2 separate regions of the Homo sapiens genome follow, and region 1 is linked to region 2. The links come from fine-mapping of genetic effects on gene expression. A gene starts in region 2. The other region holds a variant in brackets. All regions are shown on one strand. Distances are from middle to middle.

Evidence for each region. PIP is the estimated chance that this variant, and not a neighbour inherited with it, causes the effect.
Region 1: its variant is the best candidate, but not a certain one, in a credible set for the expression of SERP2 in whole blood (INTERVAL, PIP 0.80).

The regions. Positions count from the first base shown.
Region 1 is chr13:44,342,408-44,346,803 of GRCh38, forward strand. No RefSeq gene overlaps it. Among named protein-coding and RNA genes, the nearest start is that of SERP2, 29 kb to the right of the region's middle. The variant G/A (reference allele first, on the strand shown) is at 2,522.
Region 2 is chr13:44,371,114-44,375,509 of GRCh38, forward strand. SERP2 (stress associated endoplasmic reticulum protein family member 2) reads left to right here and starts at 2,711. Exons shown (of 3, transcript NM_001010897.3): 1 at 2,711-2,996. The coding sequence starts at 2,913. It overlaps LOC105370297 (a long non-coding RNA gene), which reads right to left and starts at 2,453. Exons shown (of 2, transcript XR_001749858.3): 1 at 2,284-2,453; 2 at 1-2,084.

The DNA of each region.
Region 1 (4,396 bases), 29 kb before region 2:
ACCTACAAGGCCTTGCAACAACTTGACTTCCAATGACATCTCTGAGCTCATTTTGTCTCCTTCCCTCATGCATTCTACTAGAGTCACATTAGCCTCCTTCCTAGTCTTTGAACCCAACAAGCGCATTCCTACTCAGGACCTTTGCGCTTTCCATTCTCTCTGCCTGGAACGCCCTTCCCAGGATACCTGTGGTTCACACCCCTATTTTCTTCAAGTCTTGGTTCACATGTCGTCTTCCCGGGGATGCCCTCCCTGACACCAGTTACATAAAATTGAATCCCCTTCATAACTCCATCCTTGACTTATTTTTCCCAATAGCATTTATCATCAATTAGTATACTACATAATTTTCAATTTTATTTTGTTTAGTATGTATCTATCCCTACCAGAATATACGCTCATTAAGGCCAGGAATTTTTAACATTTTTTTCACACCTGAATAATTCCCAACTGTTAAAGTGAACAATGTTCAGGACACAGCAGATGTTCAAAAGATATTTGCTGAATGAATAAGTACCTATGAAAAATGTGCTCATCTCCATCTTTATCAGACAAAGATTGGCCTCAGGCTTAGAATTGTTGGAAGGCATCAGTATCTAGCTACAGTTGAAAATTATGTTTGTCAAAGGATAATTTTTAAAAGATAAAATCATAACTTTCATACAAATATAAAATGAACATGTGTTAATGATTTTATTTAACTTATTAATGAGTGAACAAGTAAGATGTTACAACCAGTTCAAAGGAGAATTCAAGTAACACACACATAAAGAGGCAGATAAGGAATGCTGAGATGAATTTACCAATAGAGGCAAAACTGATCAATATCAACAGAGCAGTAAGCAATTCCATTCCATCAGCTAAAACTCATTGGCTCTCCTATTGGTAAGATGTGTATTGTGTAAGTCTATTTACACATAAGTTTTCTATAACTTAAAGTCTTATAAATAGCTCAAGAACAATTAAAAGAACAAATAACCCAGAAGGGTGCAATAGACAAGATACCCAGTAACCTTATTTTTTGCCCATTTTAATGTCTTTCATAATTTTTCCTGGCACGTTGTTTTATGTTTATTGTATTTACTTTTATAGATAATATGCTATTTATAGAAAATGGCACTGGCTTTTCACTTGTATTAGTGATATAGTTGTCTTTAAAGAGATTTGTTTGCATTTTTAGAAGAATGCCAATTAAAAAATATATATCTAGAAAGTGTAGGACTGTGTCCTTCAACCTTTAATATGCATACACACCATCTGAGTATCTTGTTTAAATGCAGATTCTGTTGAGGGGAGGTCGGGGTGGAGCCTGAGACTCCGCATTTGTGGTAAGCTCCCAGATGCTGCCCATGAGGGTGGTCCAAAGAGCACGCTTTAAGTAGAAAGTGTATAAATGGCACTGGGATAAGGCAAAAATATATATATTTTGACTAAAGTTTGAGGAAATTGCAATAGATTATTGAGTAGGATTGTCTGAAAGGTTTAAGCAGAGGAGTGACAGGATCAAATTTGTTCTTTGGGATCATTTTTTTGCCCTCAGAGGGAGGGCTGCAAAGAAAGGCGGTTGAGGGACACCTCTTTTATCCTCTGGAACAAAAACTATGGGGCCAGAACCCAGACAGAAGTACCACCTCAGCAACTGGTGATGTCTTATTACTGTTATTGTTGTTATTGTTGTTCAAGAATCTACTAGTTTCTTCATAAGCTTCCCAGAGCATGGACATTGAATTTTCTGTTGCATAAGTTTCTTCTGTAACAGTTGGTGGAAAACAGGTCTTCACTCCCTGAATCAGAGGTGCAAAGAACAGCCTTCTCTACTGTGTCAATAGACCCTATAAGTGCAAAAGGCATTGACTCAATTCTTGGCAAATGTGAACCTAATAGCACTCTTTTCCATTATAAAAATACGAACATTGAAGAGTTTAGTTGCTTACTTGAGTGATTTCTCCTCCAATTATCCAAATGTGTCTCTTAAGAAATCATCTTTTGTAGAACTCTGCAGTATCTATGTACATCCTTTTCCTTCCATAGTTTAGAACATTCCTAAGGGAAGCAATTGGAAGGCAACAACAAGTAGCAACACACTTGCAAATATGTTCCTACACGACTACTAATCCAAAATGTCGTAAGTGCCTGACATGTCAAGTATTGGAGGGAAAGCTATATCAGACAGAATAAGATGGCTGGTTAAATGCAATGCATTTTATAAGTGCTTTATTGAGGTATAATTTAGATACCATAAAATTCGCCTATTTCAGGTGTGGAGTTTGATTAATTTTAGTAAACTAAGCCATCTGTATAAGCATCACCCCTATCCAGGTTGAGCACATTTTCTACACCCCAGAAAACTTCCTCATACCTGTTTGCAGTTAATCCCCATACTCAACCTCAAGCTACAGGTTTGCCTTTTCATTTTTTTTTTTTTCTGAGACAGAGTCTCACTCTGTCACCCAGGCTGGAGTGCATTGGCGTGATCTCGGCTCGTTGCAATCTCCACCTCCCGGGTTCAAGCGATTCTCCC[G/A]CCTCAGCCTCCCAAGTAGCTGGGATTACAGGCACCTGCCACCACACCTGGCTAATTTTTGTATTTTTAGTAGAGACGGGGTTTCACCATCTTGGCCAGGCTGATCTTGAACTCCTGACCTCGTAATCGACCTTGGCCTCCCAAAGTGCTCGGATTACAGGCATGAGCCACCACACCCAGCCAACAGGTTTGCCTTTTCTAGAAACTTCATGTAAATTGAATCACACGATGTGCAGTCATTTGTATCTGACTTCTTTCACTTTGTATAATGTTTCTGAGTTTTATCTATGTTTTTGCATGTTTTAATATTTCATTCCTTTTCCTTGCTGGGTAGTATTCCACAGTATGAATATGCCACATTTTGTTTGTCATCAGTTGACACTTTGGGGTTATTATTGAATAAAGCTGCTATAAGCATTTATATACAAGTCTTTGTGTGGCTATGTACTTTCATGTCTTTTTACTAGATTCCTAGAAGTAGGACTGCCGGGTTCTACAGTAAATTTAAGTTTTTTAAAACTACAAAACTGCTTTCCAAAGAAACTACCATCTTTACATTCTTACCAACAACATATGAGAGCTCCAGTGTCTCCATATTCTCTCCAACACTTGGTATTGACCATCTTTTTGATTATAGACATTCTAGTGGATATGTACTGGTATCTCACTGTGGCTTTGTATGCATTTCCCTAATGATTAATGACAAGCATCTATTCATGTGTTTTTGTTTTTCCATTCATGTATCTTCTTTGGTAAATATGTTTAAATTGTTTACACATTTTGCTTATTATTGACTTGTCATATTATTGAGTCATAAGCATTCTTTATGTATTTTAGATACAAGTCCGTTATCAAAGATAAATGATTTGCAAATCTTTTCTCCCAGTCTGTGGCTTGTCTTTCCATTCTCCTAACAATGTCATTAAAAGAGCAGAAGTTCATAATTTTGATAAAGGCTAACATCTATTTTTTCTTTTATGCAACTCACATCTTAGAAACTTTGGCCCAACCTAAGCTCACAAAGATTTTTCTACTGATTTTGTTGAGTAGATTCATAGCTTTTGTTCTTACATGCAGATCTATGGTATATTTTGAGTTATATTTTACATATGGTGTGAGGTAAAAATCTAAACACTTTATTATTGTTGCTGTTGTTTGTTTGTGTATACAGACATCCAATTGTTCCTGCACCATTTTTGAAAAGTCTCTTCTTTCCCCCATTGTTAAAAAGGCTACCCTTTTGTTCTTTGCACCCTTTTCAAAATTCGATTAACCACAAATGTGAGAATTTATTTCCGGACTCTAGTCTTTACCATTGACCTATATGTCTATCCTTTTGTATCTAATTATTGTGGCTTTAAAACAACTTTTGAAATCAGATAGTGTAAGTCCTCCAACTTTGTTCTTCTTTTTCCAAAATTATTTTGGCAATTTTAGGTCCTTTGCATTTCCATACAAGTTTTAGAAAGAACTAGTCCTCCTTCTTCTTGTTTGAGCACTATAGTTTTATCTTATGGAAACAATTTTGTATTTCTTTCATTTTTGCTTTTCTGAGAGGTCACAATTTAATCTAATTTGAAGAAAGTTTGTCAATAAAGTATATCAGGTTGTGCCTGGGGCATAATAGGTACTAAAGAAATATTAGCTCTCCCCTCCTTCCACAACACAGCCTACATTTTTACTAGAAGTTGGAAGTCAGAACAACATAGGTTTAAATTCTTCCTCTGTCACTTACCAAGTGGGTGTTCTCATGCAAATTATGTAACCTCACTGAGCTTCATTTCTACATCTGTAAAATGGAGATAATAATATTGACTCCATGGGGTTTTATAACTAGTAGGTGTAATATAAATGTGTCAGGTACATAAAAAGGCC
Region 2 (4,396 bases):
GGCAAGAAATGTGGGAAGGGCTGTGGCGCTTCCATATCCTCTCTGAGCACGCCACCCTCTAGGAACCTGATGTTCTGCTCTCCAGAACTCAACAAACCCTATCCTTTGGGCTTTTATACAGGCTTCATTGCATATGTCTGATTGATTACATCATTGGTCACTGGTGATCAACTTAACTTTCAGCCCCTCTCCTCTCTGTGGAGGTCTGGGGGGACAGGGTGGGACTAAAAGTCCCAACCCTCTAATCCTGCCTTGATCTTTCTGGTGACCAGTCCCCATCCTGAAGCTATCTAGGGTCTCCAAGTCACCAACCATCTCATTAGCATACAAAAGGTAAGATATTTTCATCACTCTGGAGAGTCCAAGGAATTTAAGAGTTTTAGGTCAGGAAACAGGGACTACAATCAAATATATATTTCACAATATCACACGCAGATATACCTGCACAAGTACACACTGATCTATGTACAGGGATATTCACTGAAGCATTGTTGGCAACCACAAAAAAAGAAAAACTGGAAATAATCATCCATGGTTACATCAGTTCAATATATTACTGTATAATCATACTATGAGACATAACACAACTACAAGAAAGAGGTCATATATAAGTGATATGATAATGTTGATATATTAAGTTAGAAGAGCACGTGGCAGAACAGTTTGCATACTACTATTCCGTTTTTTTTTAGAAGGGAATATACAAATAGTCTTGTATATACTGGAAGGGCAACCCAGGAACCGTGGGAACTTTTTGGGGAGGGTGGCAAGGAAAGAGAGACCTTTACTTTTCATTTTCTATCCTATTTCTGTTTGACTATTTACTGTGTAGATGTAGTCTACTCATAATTAAAACAAACTAATTTAAAATGCCGGAAAAGTGAAGCATAGCAGGAAAAAGGAGTCAACAGTAAAGAAAAATTTTCCCCAAAAGGGGCTTCTCTCAGTTAAGAACACTTCTGAACTGTACTCACTGAATGTGAAGACCCAAAGAGAAAACAGTCTCTGTCTGTGTCTTTTCCTTAATGTCGCTCAGAGCCAGACCTCTACTCACCTGGTGAGGACCTGGGTCAGTCTCCTGGTATTTGGACATGATCTGAGAGGAGTGAGTCAGGTAAAGGAACCTTCTGGACCACAGACAACAGCCAGGCTCAGCAGGGATCACTGAGGTAGGAATCCCCCCACCCAAACCCCTAAAAAAGAGCCAACAGTTATTAAAAACATGGGACTAGAGTGGGGCAGACTGGGTTTATGGTCCTGTTACAACAGTGGTGATGCTAACAGTTAAAAGACCATAGAAGCTTGTTTCAAATTAATTGGCCTGTAGAGTAGGAAAAAAAAAAAATGACTCTACTAATGATCCTAGGCAATTCTGTCTTCTAGGTTACAGCAAGCAGCCCCCAGAATGGCCTTTATTGAAGCCTGAGTGACAAGAAGCCTGTAGCGGGGTGAGGGGGACCCGCTTGGAAAAAGGCCCCAAAAGAGGAGCTCTTCCTAACTCTCCAATGACATGGGAAAATTTTACTCACACAAAATTCCCTGGAAACCCAGCCACCTCCCGCTCCAAGAGAAGGCCTAGAGATGCAGTGGCCAGAGACAGCCTCAGGCCTTCTTCCCCATGCTGGGGGTGCTGCTGCTTGCCTTCACCCCGACCCGGTATCCCCACTTCCCGCTGCCCCAGATCTCCCAGGCTGAATGTCCCCTCTTCGCCTCCACTCTTCTGAGCTTCTAAGAGCTAACTCCAAGTGAGGAACTGAACCCCTTCCACCCCTACCTCCCCAGGCAATCTGTAGAGCTCTTGAGCCCTAATACCAGTGTCTGGGAGGCGCGTAAACGCTTCCATTTTTATCCTTCCACTGCAGAAAATGCCCAGTTTAGTCTGGGAGACACTCAGACCCCTCGGGACAAGGGTGGCTAGAGAGAGGTCCAAGCTGCCCTGGGTGGGTGGGGAGTCAAGGCAGGCCAAAGCTTCAGATTTAGACAGTAACCACCAAATCCGACCTGGGCTGCAGGTCCAAGGCCTCTTCCTCTTTCCTGCATGCTCCGCTCTGCCGCTGGCCCATCTTCCAATGCAACCCCTACAACTACCAAAGCAAAAAGGCCTGTCCCAACTCCATCCTCACGGCCCGATCCCCAACCCTCAGGGGATGCCGCTTCGTGTCTCCTCTTTATTTTACAACGCGGCCCTCCTTGCAGCCCTCACGAAAAGTTCTGCAGTGGGGTCCCCCAGCGTGGGGCCCTTCTCGAGACCCTTAAAGAGAAGGCTCGTTTGGTGGACCATACCCGGGCAGCGCGGGCCCGGGCCTGGACTGGTTCTACTTGTGTTCTGAGGTCCCTGACCACCGCCTTGGGTCCAGCCCTCGTCCAGGGGGCGGCGGTGCAGGGGAGACCGCGCGGCCCGGCCTGAAGCGCGGCCGCCCTCATCCCTTCCCCGGGGCTGGGGTGGGTCACCGGCCGACAAACACAGGAGGGGCCGCGTCCCCGTCCCCGACGCGCTCACAAACGCCGTGGTCGCCCGAACCTTCGGCCCCGCAGCATTCGGCTACAGGACCGCGACACTGCAGGGCCCCGGCTCTGCGCGCTGCGCTCCGGCCGCTCGGCGCGGGAGGACGTGCGGTCGCGCCTGCCTCGGTGGCCGCGCGGGGTAGGTGGCTGCGGGGACCGGAAGGATGGCGAGGAAGTCGGAAAGGGTTTCCTGAGATGAGAGATTACTTCCGTCCGGGCTGCGGCCTCTCTCTGGAGTCGGCTAGCCGGGGCTCGGGGAGCGGGGTGCGCAGGGCTCGGGGCCACGCCTTGCCACCTGCAGCGCCCGGGTGGGCCGCGGGGGCCTCGGCGGGACGCGCTCGGCCCTGTCGCAGGAGCTAACGCAGGGGGAATCCTTGCAGGTGGGAGCATTTCAGAGCGCACAAGCCATGGTGGCCAAACAGCGGATCCGGATGGCTAACGAGAAGCACAGCAAAAACATCACCCAGAGGGGGAACGTAGCCAAAACCCTGGTAAGGCGGGGTCGGCGCCGGCCAGGCAGAGCCCTGCAGCCCGGCGGGGTGGGGCGGAAGGTGGGGGCGGGGCCGGGCGGGTAGCGGCGCAGGGTCCGGCCTCCCGGCTCCCGGCCCGCCCCTTCTGCGGGGTCCTGCAGAGTGGGGGCTGAGAGCTGGGTTCAGGGCGGCGCGGTCTGCTTGGCGTCCTCGTGGGCGGAGAGGGCCCTGGTTGGTCGTGGCCCCTCTGGGAGTGGCTACCTGGGCTACCAGGGAGGCGCAGAGGAGCCCTCCTCCCCGACCCGCACCCCCTGTCCCCCTGCCCGGGAGACAGCTGGGCCTTGTCCCGGAGAAAGACGGAAAGCCTCATCCTTAGGGGCCAGTTAAGTCAACTGCATGACACAGAGCCTGGAACCTAGTATGTTCTAGAACGTTGCATGACACAGAGCCTGGAACCTAGTATGTTCTAGAACGTTTGTTGAATGAATGAATGAATCAATGGCTAAATGGAGGCCACTTGTCATCTCCTCCCGGACTCCACCTGTCTTCCCTCCCCAACAGACTTGCACCAGGATCAAGTTTTCTTTCCAGCCCCTTTGTGACGGTTTCACTGGAGGTGTGGAAAGAGCTCAAAATGGGGAGTGAGATTTGGACCCACATTCCCTCCAGCCTCTTTTTTCTCTTTTACCTCTCTTCCAGCGAGACCTCCCTCAGCCCCTAGGCTAAAGTCTAAGGGCAGCATTCCTATTCTTTCCACTTGGTGAATTCAGACTCATTCTCATGGTATAACTTTAGAGACCAGTTTATTGTCAGGCATTCGGTGTCCCTAGAACTGTAAATTCAAGCTTTGCAACTGGACTTTTAAGTAAAACCTGTGCCTTACACTCAGGAGTTTCTTTTAGCAAAGCAGATTATCATCAACAGAAAATGCGAGGCCTGTGACTTTGGACATTCAGAGGCATGAGTCGCATGGGTAGTTTGGCGAAGTTGGTCTCCAAGTATATGAGCAAAGGCGCCTGGGATCTGTTACCCCGTACAGTTAAGTGGAAATCCAGCTGAAGCCTGGAGTTTGGCTGGGAAAGCTTGCAGATTTGATGAATCAATTCCTTTTAGCCAAAGAAACTATATTGGTTTGATTAACTAAGCAAAAAGCTAGATCTGTAATCATCACACCAGAATTCTTGCAAAACCAAGCAGTATTACGGCAGAGAAACTCTAGGACCAAACTCAACTCTACTCAGAGCTTTATACACAAGTCTAAGCATAACTCAACTCTACTCAGAGCTTTATACACAAGACCTAAGTAATCCTTAAAATTCTCTCATTTAGGAATTATATCACTCAGTTGTGATTAGGCAGCAAAATGCCAAGATGCCATCAAATTGGAACCATTTTGTCACATTGATTTATGTTTTCCCTAT